6 separate regions of the Homo sapiens genome follow, and all the other regions are linked to region 4. The links come from fine-mapping of genetic effects on gene expression. A gene starts in region 4. Each other region holds a variant in brackets. All regions are shown on one strand. Distances are from middle to middle. Region 1 has its middle 15 kb from the start of SNORA15B-1. Region 2 has its middle 49 kb from the start of ZNF138. Region 3 overlaps LOC124901661 (a long non-coding RNA gene). Region 4 holds the start of ERV3-1 (endogenous retrovirus group 3 member 1, envelope). Region 5 has its middle 16 kb from the start of SNORA22C. Region 6 has its middle 45 kb from the start of ZNF273.

Region 1 (4,092 bases), 79 kb after region 4:
CTTGTTTATGTATGTTTGAATTTTGTATAAGCTTAAATATTTTTTCCAATCTAAGCTTAATTATATTCCCTTTCTTCTATATTTGTATAACTTCAGGTGACTGTCTTTGTTGAAAGTTTTTTCTGAAAAGCCTTAAAACAATATAGTTATTGGCAGCAATTTCAGAGTTACTTGAGGGCAAGGGAAGATTTATAATGATGATTCAAATGAAGCAAACTAAAAAGTAATGAAGCAAGACAGAGGATAAAGCAGTATTCACTTGAGCACATCCCAAAAGAATAAAATTTCAAATGTAACTAGAAAAAGGCATGCTAAAGATCATAGTACAGGAATAATTATTAATATTCAAAATAGCTTTAAAGCTGCTCACCTTTTGAATGTTGGGAATTGACCAGGAGGTGGCTGTAACCTAGGATTGTTCCTTCATTAATGACCATTTTCTTTTTCAACATGATGATGATTCTCCACCTTCTAAGAGACCAAAGACCAACGAACTACCACAGCTGGCAGGCAGTGACACACAGCCTGTTCCGGAGCCTGCCAATGATGGGCAGTTCCGGAACCTGCCAATGATGGGCAATGGAAAGTGAGGGAGTTCAACTCTGGTAAGTTCTCAGTGAAATCCACAACCTTTTCCCTCATCTTCTGGACTCTCAATGTGGCTGATGAAAGTTACAACATGCTCATCTGCAGGGGGAAATGCTTTAGCATGTATTACTATGTTATAATCTCACCTTTGTAAAGCCAGGAGCTTTTTGAAAGTCACTTTATAGCCATTGTTTAAACATGGTTTGAATTTACCAAAGCATAGGACGTTGTTTCATCTCATATTAATTAGTTGGCTCAAAATTAGTGCTAATGACTTAGTAATTCAATGGTTTCTCTTAGCTTTAAAACTTTCTTTATTTCAGAACTATTTCACCTGTTGGTTTTCGTTTTTGCTGTGTGTCACTGCCTGCCAGCTGCTATTGTGTTAACTCCCAGTGGATCATGTGTCCTGTGAAGGGACTGAATGAGATATTAATGGCAAATTATGTTGATGATTCATATTTTGAATATAAATAGATCATTAAGCTTGTATACATTTTGAAAATAGTATGTTAATATTCTGTTGTGTCATAGTCACAATGATTGGCTACATATTGAATTTATATGTACATTAAGTTGTTGTATGTTTATGTTCTTTAACATTCTAACTTGCAACTGTATATCTGTTAAGTCTTTTTTTTTTTTTTCGAGAAGATCAGACTCTGATTTATTGAGGCATCTGTTTGATGCCAAGTTAAGTGGCCCAGGCTCTGTGTAGGGGGTGAGGTTAACGCAGGAAGAAAGATGGTGAGGGGCAAGGGTGCAAGGATTATGTTGGAATGAGGCTCCCCAAGTTTCCCTGGCCCTGGCTGGTTGTGCTGCTGGCCTGAACATCTGATGAGCTTGCAAGGGTGACTCCGAGAGGTGGGTGGTCCAGGGGCTAGGGCAGGGATTTTGGAGTCACGCTGTTGGCTTTGAATCCAGACTCCTACACTTGGTAGCTGTGACCTTTCCATGCCTCAGTGACCTGCAGAACTGAGCTCTGTCTGAGCCAGGTCCCATCCAGGCACTGCAGATCCATCCAGAGTTAAACCACCCCAGGTTGCTGACTATCTGCTGCCTTCTCAAGCAGATCCTTGTCTCCTTGGAGGCCTTCACAATCCAGTGGAGGAGGCGAAACTCATCTGCCTCTGTCCCTCTGGGTGCGCCTCATGCCAGGTGCATCTGTGGGCACGGGCCATGCTCCTGGGCTTCCAAAGCTGGAGAAAGTTGCCAGGCTCAGGTGGCTATATCAGAGCAGCTGCTACCCTCTGGACACAGTGACAAAAGAACACTCTGGGCCTAGAGTCCTGGTCTGGGGCACTGGGCAAGGCTCTTGCACCTCTCTGAGCCCGTTTCCCCATCTGGAAAGT[G/A]TGCTGATTGAGTCTCCCTTTGGGCACTGAGGGCTCAGTGTTAGTTTGAGAGCCAGCATCTGGGGTTTGGGCTGTAATTCCCCTTCAGCCCCATAGCTGGGGGGAGACAGGGACTTTGTCGGGATTACCCTAGGCATCAGTCCAGCTTCCTGCTCCTGGCTTGGGCTCAGCATCTGAAGTAGTTTGGGGGGCAGGTGGTCCTGGTGGGGGTTGGGGCTTTTCCCCAGACTTAGGTCACACCCAGAGCCAGAAATCTTGGCACCTGCTCTAGGCTAAGGATGCATCTGGCCCCCAGGGTGCAGGTAACTGCCCACCTTTCCTGGTTTCTGCCTGCCAGGGCCAATCTTCAGACCTCAGGACTTCCCAGCCTATCCCATCTCCCTCTCTGGCCAGCCTTGAACCCTCGTGGGTCCAGCACTTTTTCCAGGCCGTCTCCTGGTTGTCCTCCTGCCCCGAGGCCTGGCTCATGCTGCTCCCCCTCCCACTCACCATGACCCACAAGGACCACTCCACACCCAGCTCAGCCCCAACCCCTTGGATAGTCCTTTCTCTTTCCTCAGGTGACCAGGTGCATATCTTGGTGTCAGGACCTTCCCTGCACCTGGGAATGCCTACTGGTCACCTCGGTCACAGAGACCAAGGCATTTACTTGATATGGGTGCCTTTGGTTCATTGTCTACATGGCCAGGGAGGGAGTCAATGTTAGGCTTTTCACTTGCTGCAAGGGCCAGTTCTCCTGGCCCCATGGCCCTAGGAATGGAGGATGCTGCAGGATACACACCCCTCACTTCCCAGCTGAGTGCTGTGGGTCATCTCAAGGCGATTTCACAGTCCCACATGCCCCACCCCCTCAGCTCTGCAAATACCAAGCAGCACAGCCTACCTAAGGGACAGTGGGCTCAGGACTGCCCAGGTGGGCTCAAGACTGCCCAGGTAGTCCCCAGAGTGCCCTTGGCAGGCCCCTCACCTAGCTGCTCCCACAGCTCTGTAGCAAGAGTCTAACCTTTTTTGAGTGTGGAGCCTGCTGAGAATGAGAGCTGTGGGCTGTTTTCCCGGAAACGCATGTGCACACTCTCCACACAAAACCTTGCATCGTTTCAGGGGGCTCACACCTCCCTAAGGGCCCAGTTATTGAACCCCTCGGACCTGAGAATGAGAAACCTTGCCTCAATAGAGTCTTGCTCTGTTGCCCAGGCTGGAGTGCAGTGGCCCAACCTCAGCTCACTGCAACCTCCGCCTGCTGGGTTCACGCAATTCTCCTGCCTCAGCCTCCTGAGTAGCTGGGACTACAGGTGCGCACCTACCACTCTCAGCTAATTTTTTGTATTTTTAGTAGAGATAGGGTTTCACCATGTTGGCCAGGATGGTCTAGATCTCTTGACTTCGTGATCCGCCTGCCTCGGCCTCCCAAAGTCCCAGGCATGAGCCACCACGCTGAGTCAGGGTCCCTCTTAAACTTGTATTTTTAAGGTCTGGTGTCCCTCTTACTTAATCTTTTTTTTTTTTTTTTTTCTTTTTTGAGACAGAGTCTTGCTCTGTCACCCAGGCTGGCAGTGGCACGGCCTCGGCTCACTGAAACGTCCGCCTCCTGGGTTCAAGTGATTCTCCTGCCTCAACCTCCTGAGTAGCTGGGACTACAGGCACCTGCCACCATGTCTGGCTAAGTTTTGTATTTTTGGTATAGACGGGGGCGGAGGCAGGGGGTTGGGGAGGGGAGGGGGGATTTTGCTTTGTTGCCCGGAGCTCGAAGTGATCTGCCCACCTCTGCTCTCAAAGTGCTAGGATTACAGGCCTGCACCACTGCACCCAGCTGCTGTAAAGCCTTATTTCCACACAGCTGAGACATGTTTTAGGAAGTTTGCGAAAAGGCCTCTGGAGACCTCCTCATTGTGGCCTCCCTGTTGTCGTGTTTAATTTGATTGATCTTTTCTGCCCTCCTGCTTTTCAGAAATTAAAGGCTAAAAAGAGGCATTAAACTTTAAAACTTCTCTTGTAGTCTCCTATTAAACTAATTCTAAGAACCACCAAAAAAGGGAAAAATGTTTTCGAAAGCAGTAAAATGATATGGACTGTTAGTATGTAAAATATAGGAAATAAGTCATTATATATTAGTGCTGCTCTGACATAGGGACATATTATTGAGAATCAACTT
Region 2 (4,092 bases), 260 kb before region 4:
AAGCAGGCGGGTCGTGAGGTCAGGATTTCGAGACTAGCCTGGCCAATATGGTGAAACCCTGTTTCTCTAAAAATACAAAAATTAGCCAGGCGTAGTGGCGTGCATCTGTAGTCCAAGCTACTCAGCAGGCTGAGGCAGGAGAATCGGTTGAACCCAGGAGGTAGAGGTTGCAGTGAGCCAAGATAGCACCACTGCACTCCAGCCTGAGTGACAGAGAAAGACTCAGTCTCAAAAAATAAATAAATAAATAAAATGAAAATAAAAAATAACTGCAGTAAAACACATCTCTGAACATTATTTTCTTTTCCACAACTGTTTCTTTACATGTAGGATTCCTCTGCCAAAATTTTTTCATTCTTTTCTTAGCCATTCTCAGTCAGGATTATTTTTCTGACTGTACAGAGAGACTGTAACTGAGCAGGTGCAATTTCAGCAAAGTCTTGAAGAAGATAGGCCTCGGCTGACCAGGTAAACTCTAAGCAATTGTAAATAACTATCTTTTAAAGGTGTATAATTTTTATTTTATATTGATTTACCAGGACAATCACCATTACAAAAAAATCAATTTAATTACGCCAGGCATGGTGGCTCACACCTATAATCCCAGCACTTTGGAAGGCCAAGGTGGGTGGATCACCTGAGGTCAGGAGTTTGAGAACAGGCTGGCCAACATGGCAAAACCCCATCTCTACTAAAAATACACACACACACACACACACCTGGGTGTGGTGGCAGGTGCCTGTAATCGCAGCTACTTGAGAGGCTGAGGCAGGAGAATCATTTGAACTTTGGAGGTGGAGGTTGCAGTGAGCCAAGATCACCCCATTGCACACCAGCCTGGGCAATGGAGGGAGACTCTGTCTCAAAAAAAAAAAATCAATCTAATTACAATATATCTAGAGATTTAACCCACATCTAAATGTTAAATTGACACTACAATATAATATTTAAATCTGCAAAAAGACATTAGAACATGTGGTCAATAATACCATGAGCTGCCACAAGCTTTTAGCAGATAATACAAATGACAATCACCTCTTTATGCCCATACAGGAGAAAAACATACTTGTGCATCTCATATATATCAGAAAAGAGAAAAATGCAGAATTCAATTTGCGGAAAAAGGTTGTTTATACCAGATATATACATTTTACTGATGGTTGTCCAGTATAATTTTTAAGTTTTCTGTATTACATTTTACCAAATATATATAATCCTGTTGCTCACAAGAGAGGAGCAAAAGCTAAACTATTCAAATGGTCATAAGAATTTTTGGAAAATAATATATCGTTAAAAAGAAGTTGAAAGTGTAATAGTTGACCCCTTAGGAATCTTAAATATTCCATTTAATTGCACTTAGATGGCAAGAGCTGGAGTTTTGATTAAGTTGGCCAATTCAAAATCCTCCAGAGAGAAGTTATCAGGTATCAACATTTAAGGCAGATTTTATTCATTTAAAGCATCTTAAGAAGTAACGGAAACTGCAGAAATTAAAGAATTCAGGGCCGGGTGTGGTGGCTCATGCCTGTAATCCTAGCACTTTGGGAGGCCAAGGTGGGTGGATCACCATAGGTCAGGAGTTCAAGACTAGCCTGACCAATATGGTGAAACCCTGTCTCTACTGAAAATACAAAAATTAGCTGGGCGTGGTGGTGTGCGCCTGTAGTCCCAGCTCCTCAGGAGGCTGAGAGAGGAGAATTGCTTAAACCCGGGAAGCGGAGGTTGCAGAGAGCCGAGATCATGCCACTGAACTCCAGCCTGGGTGACAGAGCGAGACTCTATCTCAAAAATAATAATAAATTAATTCAGGATTTCCACTAGTAATAAATTATATTGAAAATGTTGTTAGATTGTGTTGGCCATTTGACAGCTGCTATTTATAACTGTTTCATAAGCCTGCTGAGTCACAGGGGCAGATAAGCAATCACTGTTGTTTACATGTTCCTTTTCAGGCAGCTTTTATTAGCATGCAAATATTATCATCTTCCCAACCACAGACCCCAACATGCAAGATTTTACTTTGTGTCCAAAGGGACAGCCTTGCTTGGTTGCTTACAATCATCATGGTCATAAAGACAAAGTCCCAGTTCCCTGATACCTCTGCTTTCCAATCTGTGCATGAGACAGCCTTTGTGAGGCCCAGCATGGCCAGCTGTGCCTCTCCTTTCTGGTGGAATGTATTAAACACCTTTTAATTGCATTCACCTCCTTTTAATGTGTTAACATCCAGGCGAAATTCATGAGGCCTGCTTTAGAAAAATCATGTTGCAGGCCAGCTGCGGTGGATCACGCCTGTAATTCCAGCACTTTGGGAGGCTAAGGTGGGTGGATCACAAGGTCAGGAGTTCAAGACCAGCCTGGCCAACATGATGAAACCCTGTCTCTATCAAAATATAAAAAATTAGCCAGG[C/T]GTGGTGGCAGACACCTGTAGTCCCAGCTACTTGGGAGGCTGAGGCAAGAGAATTGTTTGAACCTGGGAGGCAGAGGTTGCAGTGAGCTGAGATTGCACCACTGCACTCCAGTCTGGGCGACAGGGTGAGACTCCATCTCAGAAAAAAAAGAAAAATCATGTTGCTGTGCTTTGTTATCAAAAATAATATGGAGGTGGAAGCGCAAAGCAAAAGTAACCAAAACATGGATAGTACTAATTTGTATTTGAAAGTGTATTTGTGAAATATACTTTTACAGAAATATCTTTGCTAGGATGTCAAGGAAGAGGTCACAAAACATCAACTCCAAAATATTCACATAAATTTAACAATTTAGAGATGGTTGTTACTTTTTGTTCTAGATTATTTCTACTTTCAGTAAAGCAAGTATTTATTGTAATACAGAAGCATTGGAAAATTAACACTAATATAACTAATGTCTGAGTCCTGAAGACTTTCCTCTGGAACCTCAGTAAATTTACTTAATCTAAATGGGTCCAGGTGCTGAGGTGATTACCCTTATCTTGTCTCCTGCTGAATCACGGAGGTTAGGGTAGTTCCTTCAGACCCCCAGTAAACTTGTTTGTGGAGGCCTGGGGGTTTCTTCAGACCCACAAAAAAGCTCATTTAATTCTACATAGGTCCTGTTAAGAATTCCTTCATTATTTTGTCATGCTGTAAGGCCCAGGAAAGGCCTAGGGAAAACTCTTCGTGGGCTTTTGTTACATTCCAGCCTTTGTATAAGGGCACTGGTTTTTTTTTGTGGGGGGGGGGGTGTGGGGGTGCTGAGGTTCACTCTTGTTGCCCAGGCTGGAGTGCAATGGTATGATCTCTGCTCACTGCAACCTCTGCCTCCCAGGATCAAGCGATTCTCCTGCCTCAGCCTCCCGAGTAGCTGGGACTACAGGCATGCACCACCACGCCTGGCTAATTTTGTATTTTTAGTAGAGATGGGGTTTCTGCATGATGGTGAGGCTGGTCTCGAACTCCCAACCTCAGGTGATCCACCTGCCTCAGTCTCCCGAAGTGCTGGGATTACAGGTGTGAGCCACCATGCCCAGCCAGGGCACTATTTTTTAATATTTAACTGAACCACTCAGTCAGTACTGAAACAGTTGTTTTGGAGGCCTCTATTAGTAAGAGCTGGACTGCCACAATCCCTACTGTCAATTCATGCATGATTTCTGTCTTGCTTGTGTATTTATTTATCACAAGAATTGGAGGGAGATGAGGGGGTCATAATCCTTCTGGATACTTCCTGCAGAGAGGGGGTCATTGTTATGGGGCACTGAATGCAGCGCTGGAGTGGAAGAGGTCAATTTGTTTCCTATAGCACTCTCTGTTTTGGGGGCTTAGAGGCAGCACCTTCTGAAACATAATAGTATGCAACAGAAGCACGCATAAATAGGTTGCTGCTCTTCTGAAGTTTAAGTCATCTAGTCTTTAGTTCACAGGGCTTTAAGAAAGCACAGCTTGGGTTTTAGTGATTTCTTATTAGGAAAAATGGGGAAACAGAACAATATAAAGCAAAAAGTTAAAAACATTATTTTGGAGACTTGTAGCCAGAAAAATTAGAATTTAATCCAAACTGTAGAAAACAATAAAATTTGAAAAACATCAGGTAAGACTAGAATTTAATCACAGGTGTACTATTGTTTTTGAA
Region 3 (4,092 bases), 220 kb after region 4:
TGACAAAGTGAGACTCGTGAGACTCTGTGTCAAAAAAAAAAAAGACCAAAAAAAAAAAATTATGTCGTCTTACATACCAGGACTTTTTCTCCAATTTATGTGCATAGCACTGATAACTGAGTGGTTCTCATAGGTAATTTTACTTGGACCACAGAGTTTATTTAAAGAGCACATTTAAAAAATTTCAGTACTTGCTGATTTAGCGTAAAAATGTGGCAGAGTATTTTTCTGATATTCAATTAATTTTTGTCTTGCCTGGGCTCACAGTTTTATGAATCCGTCTTTTCATGGGAATGCTCATGATCCTTACCCAGTTCAAACAATATGATCCTAAAATTATCAGAAACAGGACTCAACTTGTCTGGTCACTTTCCATCTTTTCATGAACCTCCTAAAGACACAATACTCTGGGATTTTGTGTGCTTTTGAGGTTTTTAGAAACTAAATAAGAATTAAACCATTAACTGTGAAAATTACTTAAATGGTTATGAAAAAACAAATAAAAAATTGATTATATCTGTTGCCTATATTTGTTCATAATAAACATAATTATGACTAATAGCATATAAAGAGATATATATTAGATTTTTAGAAATTCTATAAAATTTTGGAATAAATATTAATAACATATTCATTAAAATATAAGTTGAAGGAGGTCAAACATCATTTTTTTTTTTTTTGAGATCGAGTCTCACCCTATCGCCCAGGCTGGAGTGCAATGGCATGCTCTCGGCTCACTGCAACCTCCACCTCCTGGGTTCAAGTGATTCTCCTGGCTCAGCCTCCCAAGTAGCTGGGATTTACAGGCATGTGCCACCATGTCCAGGTAATTTTTTGTATCTTTGATAGAGACGGGGTTTCATCATGTTGGCCAGGCTGGTCACGAACTCCTGACCTTGTGATCCACCTGCCTCAGCCTCCCAAAGTGCTAGGATTACAGGTGTGAGCCACCGCGCCTGACCCAAACATCATTTTTAATTTGACCGTGCTTCCCATGCAATTTAACATATCAAATAATCCTGTTTATCACTCTCTTGGATGTTGCATTGGCTCTCTGTAGCATCTAAAAGTTAGGGGTCAAAAACCAATAATTTTAAGGTTGGGCATCGTGGCTCATGCCTGTAATCCCAGTACTTGGGGAGGCCGAGGCCAGCGGATCACTCGAGGTCAGAAGTTCGAGACTGGCCTGGCCAACATGGTGAAACGCCATCTCTACTAAAAGTACAAAAATTAGCCGGTCATGGTGGCACACGTCTGTAATCCCAACTACTTGGGAGGCTGAGGCAGGAGAATCTCTTGAACCCAGGAGGTGGAGGCTGCAGTGAGCTGAGATCAGGCCACTGTACTCCGGCCTGGGCAACAGAGCAAGACTTTGTCAAAAAAAAAAAAAAAGTCTTTTTTAAACAATTTCACTCTTGTTGCCGAGGCTGGAGTGCAGTGGCGTGATCTTGGGTCACTACAACCTCTGCCTCCTAGTTTCAAGTAATTTTCCTGCCCTAGCCTCCTGAGTAGCTGGGATTACAGGTGTTTGTCACCATGACCAGCTAATTTTTTGTATTTTTAGTAGAGATGGGGTTTTACCATGTTGCCCAGGCTGGTCTCAAACTCCTGACCTCAGGAGATCCACCCATCTCGGCCTTCCAAAGTGCTGGGATTACAGGTGTCAGCCACCATGCCCGGCCACAAAAAGACAATTTTTAAGCTGAAATTTGATTTTAGAAAGACTG[T/C]CAAATATGTCAGAGGGTTAAAATACTTGACCAAAATAGGATCACAGGTCACCGTAAAATAATAGTCATTCATTTAGCCAAAGTGATGATTAAAAGATTTTTAAAAACAAAACATTTTACTGTTTGATGCAGGAGATTAAGTTTTTCAATCAAAAATCTGAAAAAAGGCAGTATGAGAAAAATTCTACCTCTCTTTTAAAATTTATTCAAAAGGTAAACAAAAATACATTACTGTGTCATATTAATAATAATACATAAAATTTTGTTCAAAAGAAAATCAGCTTTTACTTTTGTATTAGTATATTATCAATACTAAAGTTAATTTTGGTGAAACTTTAAAAATAAATCCATCAAATATATTATTTTTGTCCACTCTAGATTTCTGTACATATTTTATAATATTTTTAACTTCTAATATTTTAATCTACATTCATCTTATTTTTTCAATTTGAGACAACCTTTAAGTAATTTCAAACTAGACAAAATGTTTCTAACTTTCTTCATGAAAGCATGCTTTGTTTTTGTTTATACACTCTCTATACCAAATTGTTATTCCTTAAATCTAGTAGTTTTAAATATACATATTAATTACATTAACTCTGAGCAACCAAATTTTTAGTGAAATTTCCAGGAAGTAATTTTGAATGTTTTGTACCATTATTTTTAGATAAAAACCATTTTGTATTTTAATAAAAATATTTTCTCAAATTTTCTGTTAACTAACAGATCTAAATATATTTAACTTTTCTATATCATGTAAAAATAAGATTCTAGTCATGCATGGTAGCTCATGCTTGCAATCCTAGCACTTTAAAAAGCCAAGACATAAAGACTGTTTAAATCCAGGAATATGAGACCAGCCTGAGCAACATGGCAAAACCATATGTCTACACATAATACAAAAATTATTTGGGCATGGTGGCCTGCACCTGTAATACCAACTATTCAGGAGGCTGAGGAAGGAGAATTGCCTGAGCCCGGAAGGCTGAGGCTGCAGCAAGCCATGATCAAGCTACTACACTCCATCCTGGGTGACAGAGGGAGATCCTTTCTGGGAAAAAAAAAAAAAATTGGCCAAAACATATAAACTTAAACTTAGGGAGTTGTTTGTGTTTTTTGTTTTTATCATTATTATTTCAAAAGAGGTGGTGTTTGGTTACATGAATAAGTTCTTTTGTGGTGATTTGTGAGATTTTGGTGCATCATCTCCCCAGCAGTGTATGCTGTACCCAATGTGTAGTCTTTTATCCCTCACCACCCCCCGCCCTTTCCCCAAGTTTCCAGAGTCCATTATGTTACATAATTCTTATGCCTTTACATCCTCTAGTTTAGCCCCCACTAAAAAGTGAGAACATACAACGCTTGGTTTTCCATTCCTGAGTTACTTCACTTAGCATAATGATCTCCAACTTTATCTAGATTGCTGTGAGTGCCATCGTTTTCTTCCTTTTCATGGCTGGGTAGTATTCCATAGTATATATACATATACCCTATTTTCTTTATCCAGTCGGTTGATGGGCATTTAGGCTGTTTCCATATTTTTACTATTGCAAATTGCGCTGTTATAAACATGCGTGTGCAAGTGTCTTTTTCATATAATGACTTATTTTCCTCTGTGTAGATACCCAGTACTGAGATTGCTGGATCAAATGGTAGTCCAACTTTTAGTTCTTTAAGGAATCGCCATGCTGTTCTCCATATTTATTGCACCAGTTAACATTCACATCAGCAGTGGAAAAGTGTTCCTTTTCATCACATCTATACCAACTTTTTTTCAATTATATATAAATATATATAATATGTAATATATATTTTTATATATATTATATAAATATATTATATTTATATATTATATTTATATATTATATTCATATATTATATTCACATATTATATTTGTATATTATATAAATACATATTATATATTATATATTATATTTATTATATAAATACATATATATTATATTTATATATTATATAAATACTTATATTTATATAACATAAATACATATATATTATATTTATATGACATATAAATACATATTATATATTATATTTATATAACATAAATACATATTATATATTATATTTATATAACATATAAATACATATATATTACATTTATATAACAAATACATATATATTATATAACATAAATACATATATATTATATAACATAAATACATATTGTATATATTTCTATAATATATACATATTGTATATTATATTTATATAGTATATACATATTGTATATTGTATTTCTATATTATATACATATTGTATATTTATATATTATATAAATACATATATATTTATATATTATATAAATACATATCATATATATTAATATATAAATACATATCATAT
Region 4 (4,092 bases):
TCCCACCCCCATCCTGCTCACTTAAGTGCTCAGTGACCACCCTCTCCAGAGACACTGTACTAGGCCCCATTGAGTGCCCCAAGGTGCATTTCACTTTGCAAGTTGCTGCACCATCTCACTGGGGCCAGGTTTGATTTTTTTTTTTTTTTTTTTTTTGTCTTTTGGGATACTATTTTCTCTTTCATAATTCTTGGAGAATCCAGGTGGCAGTAATTATTTGTTTTTCCCTCATTACCACCATCTGATTGGCTGACCAGCAATGTGTCTTCGAGAAATGGAACCCGGGTTGCTTGAAGACAATCTTAACTTCTCTAAGGGTTTGCTTTTCAAAGGAAGAGTACCCCAGGAGACTCCTCTCAGCCTCAGGGCATCCACCTGCTCCCTTGAGAGGCTACACTCCAACTTCAGGCTGTCCTGTCTCCCATTCCCAGATATGCGAAGTTTCATTCCAGGCCAGGAGCTGAAATTTACTAGACATTGTAGCATACACAGCCACAGTGGATATCTTGATTTATCCCCAGACAGTACTGAAACCCAGAACCAGGGAAAAAACTGAAGGGTGGCTGAGGACACATTACCTTATAAAGTTTCCAAAGGGAAACCCTGACCCAAAAATATTCTGATAAGGTTTCTGTGGCTAGAGGCAATAAAAGGAAAGGAGGCACAGAACATTTTTTACAATACAGTGTCAGGGGATTATTCTTTGCTTTCTTCTCTTGGGAAATCTTTACAAACAGAAAACAAATCTTTTTTAAAATGCCAGCCAATGCTTTGTCAAAAAATGATTAATTAAAATATGGTACCTAAAATGTACACTAAAGTGTACATTAAAGGACAAATAGTTGATAATGTGAATTAGGGAGGGGAAATTGGCATTTGGGAATGTCAGAAGGAACTGGAAATTTAGTATTTTACTGCAAGCCAGAGTTAGGCTGGAGGAATGGGAAATGGGGAGAAGTCTTGAGACCCTGCTTGAGACAGAAGTGAAAAATGCAGAGGAAAATCAGTGCCCTGTGGAGTGTGAAAATAATTAAGTGGCAGGCAATTAGACTGAGGTGGCTCCAGTCCTAGGGTTGCTACTTGCAAAAAAATCTAACTCGAATGATTTTTTTCTAAAGTATTACATTGGGGGAAAATAAAATTCAGGCTTAACCAACTATAAACTGCCAATTAACCTCTCATTACATGACCAGGGAATTTCCACCTTGATCGTACAAATTAAGAAACTACATAACTTTACCTAACCAATTATTGAATTTGCTTTCCTTTATCATGCACTTTATAAAAGTGTTTTCTTCAAGCCCCTTCCATAAACCACAAACTACAAAACATAGCTTGGTGCTCTACAATTCTTGAATTACTCTTTAATTAAATTCTTTAATATTTCTGCGGAGACTTCCACAAATTTTTAATAGAAAAAAAGGGGGACTGGGAACCCCGCAGACCAAAGCTCTTCCCATTCATGAACTCTGCATCCTGAGTCAGTATTCTCCCCTGACGACCGTCCAGTGGTCCCTGCACAATCGGGGAGAGCTGCGGCAGTGGGGGCAGAGCTGCCCACAGAGGACTCCAGAACAAGGCACAGTCACTGCGCAGGGAGGAGACAGGATGCCCGGGGTCCGAGCTGTCAGCCCGGCCGCCATCCTATGGCTGAAGGGGACTGAGGGCCGAGCTGCGCCAAGGAGAACTCGGGGCCGCGGATTTTGGAGCCAGCTGCGGGGAGGCCAGAGTCCCGCCACAGCCACTTCCCACCAGTTCCAACCAGCCCCGCCCCCTCTCTCGGGATGTCGGACCCGGCACTCTCACCATTTCTAGGCTTCCAGTGGGTCCTGGCGTCTTAGCTGTGGATCTCCCAATACCTGCAGGTAACGAGGCCACAGAAGCTGGGCCTCTAGGAGCAGAAGACACAGAGCAGTGAAGACTACACCAGAAGCTCCGGCTGCCGCCAGAGACAAAGGCCCCACCAAACCCGGAAGCCGTCCTGTCTGCTCCAGCTGAGTGCCTGATTGGACGGGTCCCAGCCCAGCGTCCCTGATTGGATAATGTTTAGGGCCCCACCCTCTCAGGCCTTGATTGACAGAAGACGTGCTCAGATGCTGGGCTGAATGTAGAGTGAACCCTAAGCCTTTTCAGGCAGAGCTTCCTCCCTGAGCTGACCCAGGCCCTCCCCAGACGGCATTTGCCTTGTAAGGCAACCGTCTGAAATAAAATGTGAGCCATGTGTGAATTCTAAATTTTCTAGTAGTTAAGAAGAAAGAAGAAACAGGTGAAATTCATTCTAACCATTTAATAACCCAATATATCCAAAATATTATTTTAGTATAGGAGCAATATGTAATTATTAATGTAGTGTATATATTCTTGGAACTAAATCTTTAAATCTAACCCTGTATTTTACCTTTCTAGCACATCGCAGTTCAGACCAGCCATATTCCAGCTATCCTGTAGCCACACATGGCCAATAGCCACCACATTGAAGTGCAGCTCTGATTTCATACTTCCTCTCTCTCTCTCCTCAAACCTCCTGTGCTTCCTTCCCTCCCTCCCTTCTGCTAAGCTGATGCTCACTTCTCCAACGTTACTAGAAGCCCTCAGAGTGAATGTTCTTATCTTCCCACCATCCACCGACTGTGTCTCTGTTCCTTCCACTGTCACTGTGTAATAATTGCCCTTCTGCGGCTGGGCATGGTGGCTCATGCCTGTAATCCCAGCACTTTGGGAGGCTGAGGTGGGAGGACTGCTTGAAGCCAGGAGCTTGAGACCAGCCTGGGCAACATAGTGAGACTCCATCTCTACAAAAAAGTTTAAAAATTAGCCATGGGCTGGGTACGGTGGCTCACGCCTGTAATCTCAGCACTTTGGGAGGCTGAGGTGGGCGGATCACCTGAGGTCAGGAGTTCAAGACCAGCCTGGCCAACATGGTGAAACCCTGTCTCTATAAAAATACAAAAATTAGCTGGGCCTGGTGGCGTGCACCTGTAATTCCAGCTACTTGGGAGGCTGAGGCAGGAGGGTCACTTGAACCCAGGAGGTGGAGGTTGCAGTGAGCCAAGAACGCACCATTGCACTCCAGCCTGGGTGACAGAGCGAGACTGTGTCTCAAAAATAAAAATAAAAGTTAGCAAGGCGTGTTGGTGTGCACCTGTGGTCCCAGCTACTCAGGAGGCTGAGCTGGGAGGATAACTTGAGCTCACGAGTTCAAGGCTACAGTGAGGCATGATTGGGTCACTGCACACCAGCCTGGGTGATGGAGTGAGACCTTATCTCTTAAAAAAAAAATGTCCTTTTGATTTATGAAGCCTCGGCCCGGCCTGAGCTGTGGTTCCTATTCCTTCTGGCTTTCCCAAGCTTTTCTTGCCCACTGGAAGTTTCACTGGAGGGTAGAGGACTGGCTCTGTAGTTGGGGACCTAATTGATGCTCTGTTTTCTGTAAAGAGGAATTTTTCTAATTGTCACTTAGCAGGGAGCCTGGCTAGGAATGGAATCTGGGGGCATTACTATTGGTTTACCCTCCTGGGGACCCCTCATCTTTGGTCCATGCATATTCTCCTTGGGGTGGCATCCTGTAATTAATGATCTCTTACATATCACAGCACCTCGAAGCTCCCCCAGACACATCCTCATCCAGCCTCTCACTCTGATGCCATCATTGTCTAGGGACACCTCCGCATAGGTCCATACCATGTCTCAAGCTGCTCATCTCAACAACATTTGTGCTCTAGGAGGTGGAGGTGCCCTAGGGGGCTCCTCACCAAGGGAGTGGGCAGGTGATCCCAGCACTTTGGGAGGCTGGGGCAGGTGATCCCAGCACTTTGGGAGGCCGAGGCAGGTGGGTTATTTGAGGTCAGGAGTTCATGATCAGCCTGACCAACATGGTGAAACCCCATTTCTGCTAAAAATACAAAAAAATTAGCCAGGTCTGGTGGTGCATGCCTGTAGTCCCAGCTACTCAGGAGGCTGAAGAGAATCGCTTGAACCTGTAAAGCGGAGCTTGCAGTGAGCCAAGATCATGCCACTGCACTCCAGCCTGGGTGACAGAGTGAGATTTAATAAAAGTGTATGCATTGAATCCATTGGGAGGTTTATCTGTTG
Region 5 (4,092 bases), 44 kb after region 4:
AGCCGGGCATGGTGGTGCATGCCTGTAATCTCAGCTACTCGGGAGGCTGAGGCAGGAGAGTTGCTTGAACCCAGGAGGCGGAGGTTGCAGTGAGCCAAGATCACGCCATTGCACTCCAGCCTGGGCAACAAGAGTGAAACTCCATCTCAAAAATAAAATAAAATAAAATAAAAAGTAAAAAAGCACACACAAAAAAGTGCATTTAGAATATTTGAGAGAAAATAAGCAAAAGGAAGAAAATGTAAATTATCTATAATGCTTACACCCAGGACAACAATCCTTGGAATAGAGTGTCTCACTTTGTATATAGAAATGAAACTTTTAAAATGCCATTTTATTTTTTAATTAAAATTTTTTCTTTCCTTTTTTTTCCTCAGAGTTAGAAAGGATAAAAATGTTATTGATTAGTAAGACTGTATCTTTATGTTGATATTTTGAAATTTTAGGCTAGTGCTTGTTTGTTCATATAACATTATATAAGCACATTCAGTACTATTAGAACTGTTGCATTATGCAATAACATGACTGCCTAATGCATATATCAGGATTAGTACATATTGTAAAGTTTTTATTTTTTACCAAAATGTTTACGACTACCAAGTATTCATTCCTTAACACTATTACATAATTAATTTAGAAATGTTTTACTTTTAAAACTTCTGGATAGGTGTAATTAAATTCTTAGATAGCGTTAATGTACTATTTAAAAAACACACACAAAACATTATCATTTGTAAAACATGCTTTATCATCTATTCATCTTTGTGAATCCGGTTTTTCTTGATACCATGCCATCAAAACAAATTTGACATAAGACTGCCCAATCATCCATAATTTAAAGTTGGTGTTTGTCAGAAGAATTTTATTGTTCTCATTATACATGTTATACATTTGAGCTTTTTTTTTTTTTTTTTTTTTTTTTTGGAGATGCAGTCTCACTCTGTCACCCAGGCTGGAATGCATGCAGTGGTGCCATCTCGGCTCAATGCAACCTCCACCTCCCAGCTTCAAGTGATTTTCCTGCTTCAGCCTCCTGAGTAGCTGGAACTACAGGCACGTGCCACCATGCCTGGCTTTTTTTTGTGTGTATGTTTTTACTAGAGATGGGGTTTCACCATGTTGGTCAGGCTCGTCTCGAACTCCTGACCTCAAATGATCCACCCCCCGCCTTGGCCTCCCAAAGTGCTGGAATTACCGGCATGAGCCACCACACCCGGCCACGTTTGAGCTTTGAAATACATTGATAGAATAAAATACTGCTTTATTCTTTTTTTGTTTGTTTTTTGAGATGGAGTTTCACTCTTTAACCCAGGCTGGAGTGCAGTGGCAGGATCTCAGCTCACTGCAACCTCTGCCTTCCAGCTTCAAGTGATTCTCCTGCCTCAGGCTCCCGAGTAGCTGGGATTACAGGCACCTGCCACCAAACCCTGCTAATTTTTGTATTTTTAGTAGAGATGGGGTTTCACCATGTTGGCCAGGCTGGTGTCGACCTCCTGACCTCGTAATCTGCCCTCCTCAGCCTCCCAAAGTGCTGGGATTACAGGTGCAAGCCACCACACCCAGCCTAATCTGTTTCTTATGTTATAGATGCACATAAAATTTCATTTAGAAAAATGTTCTTGTACTACAATATTTAAAGCTATTGAATTATGATTCATAAGTTTTATTTTGTAGTTAGCATCTCTAGGGGAATTTCAGGGACACTGTTGGCTGTCTTGTGATTACCGATCCTTTTAAAAACTCGTTGTATTTGAGAAGTAAAATAGTAGAATATATATGACAAAATCGGGAATTAAAGTAGACAGTATACTCAATTCCACTGTGTTTAAAGAGTTTGATTAATTTCTATACATTGTGCCAGTGGTTAAGATCTGGGACTCTAGAGTCAACCTGAGTTGAAATCTTGGCTCTGTCACTTGATCTCTTGTCTCAGCTTCTTCCTCCATAAAATGAGGGTAGTAATAGC[G/C]TTAACTCATAGGATTATTGTGAATATGAAGTGTACCAGTACATGTAAATAGTCCTGGTGTCTGGCATAAAGGTACTCATAAAACATAGTTACTATTATTTTAGAACATGGTTTAGATCTTCCTGTATGTTTAATTTGTCTTTTCCTCACTTAACATATCACGGCAGGGCACGGTGGCCATAATCCCAGCACTTTGGGAGGCTGAGGCAGGTGGATCATCTGAGGTCAGGAGTTTGAGACCAGCCTGGCCAACGTGGTGAAACCCCATCTCTACAGCCTGGCCAACGTGGTGAAACCCCATCTCTACTAAAAATACAAAAATTAGCTGGGCATGGTAATGCACACTGATGGTCCCAGCTACTTGGGAGGCTGAGGCAGGAGAATTGCTTGAACTGGGGAGGCAGAAGTTGCAGTGAGCCGAGATCATGCCATTGTACTTCAGCCTGGGCGACAGAGTGAGACTGTCTCAAAAAAAAAGAAAATATTACCACTATTTTCCCATGTTGTTAAAAATTCCACCAGTAATGGAAGAGAATATTGGGTGCCCTGTGCCCTTGCCAAATTGGGCATTCTCATTTTTTAGATATTTGCCAATATGATTTATGAAAATTGTCATGTTATTGTTTTGATTTGCATTTTCCCCAAGCATCAGCAAGATTTAATGGTTTCACATTTAAAAAATTTATTTTTTAATTTATAATCACCTTGTTTGATAATGAGGTTTTCATGTTTTTATTAACTGTGTTTCTTCTCCTGCCTGGATAAATTTTAGAATTTTTCACATCGATTTAGACGAATGCTAGTACAAAGGTTTTTTTAAGTCTATGATAATTTTAATGATTTTTCTTGGTAATTTTTGTCTGTAGATTCAAGTTCAGACAGGCACTTCCCATTCTGATATTGTGTAAATATATGTAATTTGTTAGTTCTGAAAAACATGACTTCTTTAACCTCCTAGAATGTAGTTTACTGGGTGTTACATGAATCTACAACATAATTTTTGTACAGACAAAAATTTTGCATTTCTTCTGGATATTGCCTGTTCATACCTTTGCCCATTTTTTCCCTTTCTGGGTTGTTTATCTTTTCTTCTTATTGCTTTATAGGAGTTCTTTAGATGTCACAATGGTTAATCTTTTGTTATATGTGTTACACATTTTCTCTTCATTTGTTATTTGTCTTTTAATTTTGTGTTATGGTGTCTTTACATAGAAGTGTTAACTTAGGTGGTCAGATCTTTCACTTAAAAAAATTCTTCATTATTCAACTGGAAAATCTTTCACATATTTATAGTTTTTTTTTTTTTCTGGTTTAGCAAAATCTCTACCATCCCAAGATTATCTTTAAAATATTTTCATATACTTTATATGAAAAAATTTTTTTCACACTGAGCTCTTTTAGTTTGTATGGAATTTCCTTTTGTATCTAGTGTAAGGGTAGGGATCTAAATTTTTCCTAAATGGATAGGCTTTTGCCTCTCTCAGTTCATTGACTTGTTCATATTTCAAATGCCACAAGGCTTTTCTGCATACATAAGGCCTCTTTCTGGATTCTCAGTTCTGTTCCAGTGACAGGTCGGTCTGTGTTTATTCCATTACCACCCCTCCCCCGTGGCTTTTTATAGAAGTTTGATATCTGATAGGGCAAATATGCTCATTTCCAAATTTTTCTTTGCTATTGTCATGAATTTACTGTTTCCGGTGAATTTTAGAATAATTTTGATGAGTTCTAAGACAAATCCCACTGAGATTTTGATTAGAATTGTGCTAAATTTATAGACGAATATGGGAAGGAGTCAGTTCTCACTAGCAGGTCTTTCCATCAAGGAGCATATTGTATCTGTTTATTCTGGAATTGCCTCTCTGATAACGGTTTTAACTTAGATGCTCATTGTGGCATTGTTTTGTTCTAAACACATGTATTACAAAGATAGTGTTAGAGTAAATTAGTTGAGGGAAAAGCCTTATATCATCTATCCCTGTTTTCATTTCTCTTTTCACCTTTACTTTTGGTCTAAAGAGTCTTTATCATGATATATGGTATATGTATACTCAGGTTCTTGTAATAATCGGCAGTATATTATGATCTCTTTTTCTTATAGTCATTAATTTAATGATTAAGGACCA
Region 6 (4,092 bases), 150 kb before region 4:
GCCCCTGCCCGGCCAGCCGCCCCATCCGGGAGGGAGGTCGGGGGTCAGCCCCCCGCCCGGCCAGCCGCCCCGTCCGGGAGGTGAGGGGCGCCTCTGCCCGGCCACCCCTACTGGGAAGTGAGGAGCCCCTCAGCCTGGCCAGCTGCCCCGTCCGGAGGGAGGTGGGGGGGTCAGCCCTCCGCCCGGCCAGCCGCCCCGTCTGGGAGGTGAGGGGCGCCTCTGCCCGGCCGCCCCTACTGGGAAGTGAGGAGCCCCTCTGCCCGGCCAGCCGCCCCGTCCGGGAGGGAGGTGGGGGGGTCAGCCCCCCGCCCAGCCAGCCGCCCTGTCCGGGAGGGAGGTGGGGGGGTCAGCCCTCCGCCCGGCCAGCTGCCCCGTCTGGGAGGTGAGGGGCGCCTCTGCCCGGCCGCCCCTACTGGGAAGTGAGGAGCCCCTTTGCCCGGCCAGCCGCCCAGTCTGGGAGGGAGGTGGGGGGGTCAGCCCCCTGCCCGGCCAGCTGCCCGTCCGGGAGGTGAGGGGCACCTCTGCCCGGCCGCCCCTACTGGGAAGTGAGGAGCCCCTCTGCCCGGCCAGCTGCCCCGTCTGGGAGGGAGGTGGGGGGGGGTCAGCCCCCCCGCCCGGCCAGCTGCCCCGTCCGGGAGGTGAGGGGCGCCTCTGCCCGGCCGCCCCTACTGGGAAGTGAGGAGCCCCTCTGCCCAGCCACCACCCCGTCTGGGAGGTGTGCCCAACAGCTCATTGAGAACGGGCCATGATGACAATGGCGGTTTTGTGGAATAGAAAAGGGGGAAAGGTGGGGAAAAGATTGAGAAATCGGATGGTTGCTGTGTCTGTGTAGAAAGAAGTAGACATGGGAGACTTTTCATTTTGTTCTGCACTAAGAAAAATTCTTCTGCCTTGGGATCCTGTTGATCTGTGACCTTACCCCCAACCCTGTGCTCTCTGAAACATGTGCTGTGTCCACTCAGGGTTAAATGGATTAAGGGCGGTGCAAGATGTGCTTTGTTAAACAGATGCTTGAAGGCACCATGCTCGTTAAGAGTCATCACCAATCCCTAATCTCAAGTAATCAGGGACACAAACACTGCGGAAGGCCGCAGGGTCCTCTGCCTAGGAAAACCAGAGACCTTTGTTCACTTGTTTATCTGCTGACCTTCCCTCCACTATTGTCCCATGACCCTGCCAAATCCCCCTCTGTGAGAAACAACCAAGAATTATCAATAAAAAAATAAATTTAAAAAAAAAAAAAAAAAAAAAAAGAATTTTATTTTATCAGTAAATTTAGAGAAGAATTAAAAAAAAACAGTGCTTTGGGCAAAATAACAGTGGCACATCAGTACCACCCAAACAAGTGCTTTTCATCATCATCGTTAAAGTCGCAATAGCACCACATGCTTTCCTGGGACCAGGTGGCCTGTTTCCCACTGATATAAAGTGGAGACAGCATTGAAATAGCAAAGGAGGGTGATATAAATTGGATACCTATATAAAATACAAATTTTAATAAAAAGCGTTTGATATTGTAGAACTATAGATGAGACTATTAGTATGAGATCATAATATTTTTACTTCTTTTGACAGAACAACTTCACAATATTCTTATTTCAAAAAATATTCCTTTTTCTGTGCATATTGCCTAGCTTTTGGTCAAATATTACCCGAGCTCCATAGAAATCAATGAAATGAATCTATATTTTGCCACAAGCATTTTATTTCTGATGAATATGCTTGTTTTGCTTAAAATACATTAGCTTTTCATGAAAAATCTACACTTTTCTTTCAGGGTTTTATTTATTGCTGAGAAGTGTCCTGCCAGAAAACTGCTATTCTCAGCTCTACTTACATTGACTAATAGTGAGTGGAAGTGATGTGTGGATAAAAAGCAAATGTGTC[T/G]TTTCTACATCTCTTTGTTAATTTATTCACAGAAGAAAGAGGAGGATGCAGATAGAAGATGAAAGAAGACATGATTACTAAAAAATCATGGGGAAGTCTTTTTATCAAGGAAAAAACCATAAGGGATAATGTGAGAAGAAAATATATTATTTTGCTAAGCCTCTGAAATGTCAGTATACAATCTGCATTGCTTTAACAAATATATTATTCCTTCAGTTTTGAGTCTTCAGGATATGATTCAGTTCCCCAGTGAATCAAAACTACAAGGAGAATAACATTTGTTAAGGTAATAGATGTAGGGAAGACCCATTATGTTTGGCCAAAATCTTTTTCACCCCCTGTCGCAGGCAATCATTATTCTACTCTCTGCTTCTATTAGTTTGAATTTTCTTTTACACTCTGCATAGAAATGAGATCTTTTTAAAAATTTTTTTCAATGCTGGCTTATTTTACTTAGCATAATGTCCTTCAGGTTCAATAAGCTTTTTGCAAATAACAAGGCTTTCTTCTTTTTAAGGGCTGAATAGCATTCCATTGTGTAAATATACCACATTTTCTTTATTCATTCAACTGTTGATGAACATTTAGGTTGATTCCATATCTTGGCTATTGTGGCTTTCTTCTTTCTCTTTCATTTTTTTATATCTTCTTTTTTATTTCTAGTGCAGTGATGTGATCTCAGTTCACTGCCACCTCCACCTCCTGGGTTCAAATGATTCTTCTGTCTCAGCCTCCCAAGTAGCCTGGATTACAGGCACACACCACCACACCTGGCTAATTTTTGTATTTTTAGTAGAGATGGTGTTTCACCATGTTGGCCAGGCTGGTCTTGAATTCCTGACCTTGTGAACCACCCACCTCAGCCTCCCAAAGTGCTGGGATTACAGGCATGAGCCACGACGCCTGGACAACTTTGTCATTTTTAGTGATACTCAGATATGTTCCATTGCAGAAAATTGTATTTTATTAGTTATTATTGTGTTTTTTGGACTCATCTACATGGGATGAGTCCTAAGAGATTCAGTTTAAAAAAGTTTTTTTAGGTACATTAAGGACATTATTTATCTTTTGTAACCTGTTCATGTCTATGTCTGTTACTTGCATCAGGCAGTGACTCAAACAATTCTCAAAAAACAGAAAGTATATTTCTCTTAAAGTTGGCTTATTAAGGGACTATGAGGTGATCCAATTCAATAAGAACCAAACTAGACCTACTAAGATTAGTCAGGACTATCAGAGAATTTTTCAAATACATTCACCATTAATCCAGAGATAATTGTGAATCCCAACTTTTACCCTAAGAAAAATTATTGCAATGTAGTAAAGTTGATTCTGTCTTTAAAAAGAAAGAGGAGCACAATGAGATTTCCTGTGGCCAGTTGAAGTTCATGAAGTTTGTCAAAGAATTTCACATACATAGTAAATCTTCTGATAGCATTTAGTTCCAATCACAATAAATTATACTTGTCTCTGTCTTCTATAATTAATCTCTTCTCTCTTTAAAAAACTCTGTATTTTCTGTATAAAAATAGTGATTATTGGCTGTGCACGGTGGCTCACGCCTGTAATCCCAGCACTTTGGCAGGCCAAGGTGGGTGGATTACGAGGTCAAGAGTTTGAGACCAGCCTGACCAACATGGTGAAACCCCATCTCTACTAAAAATACAAAAATTAGCCAGGCATGGTGGCACGCACCTATGATCCCAGCTACTCAGGAAGCTGAGACAGGGGAATTGCTTGAACTCGGGAGGCGGAGGTTGCAGTGAGCCAAAATCATTCCACTGCACTTCAGCCTGGTGACAGAGCAAGACTCTGTCTCAATATAATATAATTATACAATTATAACATCCTAAGTATGTATTTGTTGGGTACACTGTCATATTTTTATGTTTATGCTGTAAAATGTTTAAATCAAGCTAAGTAACAAATTCAGCACCTCACATACTTATTATACTTTTGTGGCAAAAACATTTAAAATATTTTTATACCAATTTTGAAATATACACTGCATTATTATTTATTATAGTCAATATTCTGTGCAATTAATCACTAAATCTTATTTCTCCTAAGTGAAACGTGGTACACTTCCATCAACATTTTTTCTTTCTTCAACCACTTCTTCCCCAGCCTCTGTTACGTTTTTACTTACACTAAGTTACATTAGGGCCATTAATGTAATTAAAGAAATTAAATCTTTTGGTATGC

Evidence for each region. PIP is the estimated chance that this variant, and not a neighbour inherited with it, causes the effect. A credible set is the group of variants that fine-mapping cannot tell apart.
Region 1: its variant is the best candidate, but not a certain one, in a credible set for the expression of ERV3-1 in whole blood (INTERVAL, PIP 0.83).
Region 2: its variant is the best candidate, but not a certain one, in a credible set for the expression of ERV3-1 in whole blood (INTERVAL, PIP 0.63).
Region 3: its variant is the best candidate, but not a certain one, in a credible set for the expression of ERV3-1 in monocytes (BLUEPRINT, PIP 0.88).
Region 5: its variant is the best candidate, but not a certain one, in a credible set for the expression of ERV3-1 in anterior cingulate cortex (GTEx, PIP 0.65).
Region 6: its variant is the best candidate, but not a certain one, in a credible set for the expression of ERV3-1 in whole blood (INTERVAL, PIP 0.71).

What each region holds. Positions count from the first base shown.
Region 1 is chr7:65,083,653-65,087,744 of GRCh38, forward strand. It overlaps the pseudogene GTF2IP14. Among named protein-coding and RNA genes, the nearest start is that of SNORA15B-1, 15 kb to the left of the region's middle. The variant G/A (reference allele first, on the strand shown) is at 1,941.
Region 2 is chr7:64,742,994-64,747,085 of GRCh38, forward strand. No RefSeq gene overlaps it. Among named protein-coding and RNA genes, the nearest start is that of ZNF138, 49 kb to the right of the region's middle. The variant C/T (reference allele first, on the strand shown) is at 2,411.
Region 3 is chr7:65,222,662-65,226,753 of GRCh38, forward strand. The region is part of intron 1 of LOC124901661 (a long non-coding RNA gene); the gene reads right to left. It also overlaps the pseudogene INTS4P1. Among named protein-coding and RNA genes, the nearest start is that of ZNF92, 150 kb to the right of the region's middle. The variant T/C (reference allele first, on the strand shown) is at 1,728.
Region 4 is chr7:65,004,735-65,008,826 of GRCh38, forward strand. It overlaps ERV3-1 (endogenous retrovirus group 3 member 1, envelope), which reads right to left and starts at 1,953. Exons shown (of 2, transcript NM_001007253.4): 1 at 1,807-1,953. ERV3-1-ZNF117 (ERV3-1-ZNF117 readthrough) reads right to left here and starts at 2,012. Exons shown (of 4, transcript NM_001348050.2): 1 at 1,807-2,012. It overlaps LOC105375330 (a long non-coding RNA gene), which reads right to left. Exons shown (of 6, transcript XR_927607.1): 6 at 3,940-3,977. RefSeq lists an enhancer at 1,884-1,943 and a silencer at 2,044-2,213.
Region 5 is chr7:65,048,319-65,052,410 of GRCh38, forward strand. It overlaps the pseudogene CCT6P3. Among named protein-coding and RNA genes, the nearest start is that of SNORA22C, 16 kb to the right of the region's middle. The variant G/C (reference allele first, on the strand shown) is at 1,967.
Region 6 is chr7:64,856,430-64,860,521 of GRCh38, forward strand. It overlaps a transcript of ZNF138 not described here. Among named protein-coding and RNA genes, the nearest start is that of ZNF273, 45 kb to the right of the region's middle. The variant T/G (reference allele first, on the strand shown) is at 1,888.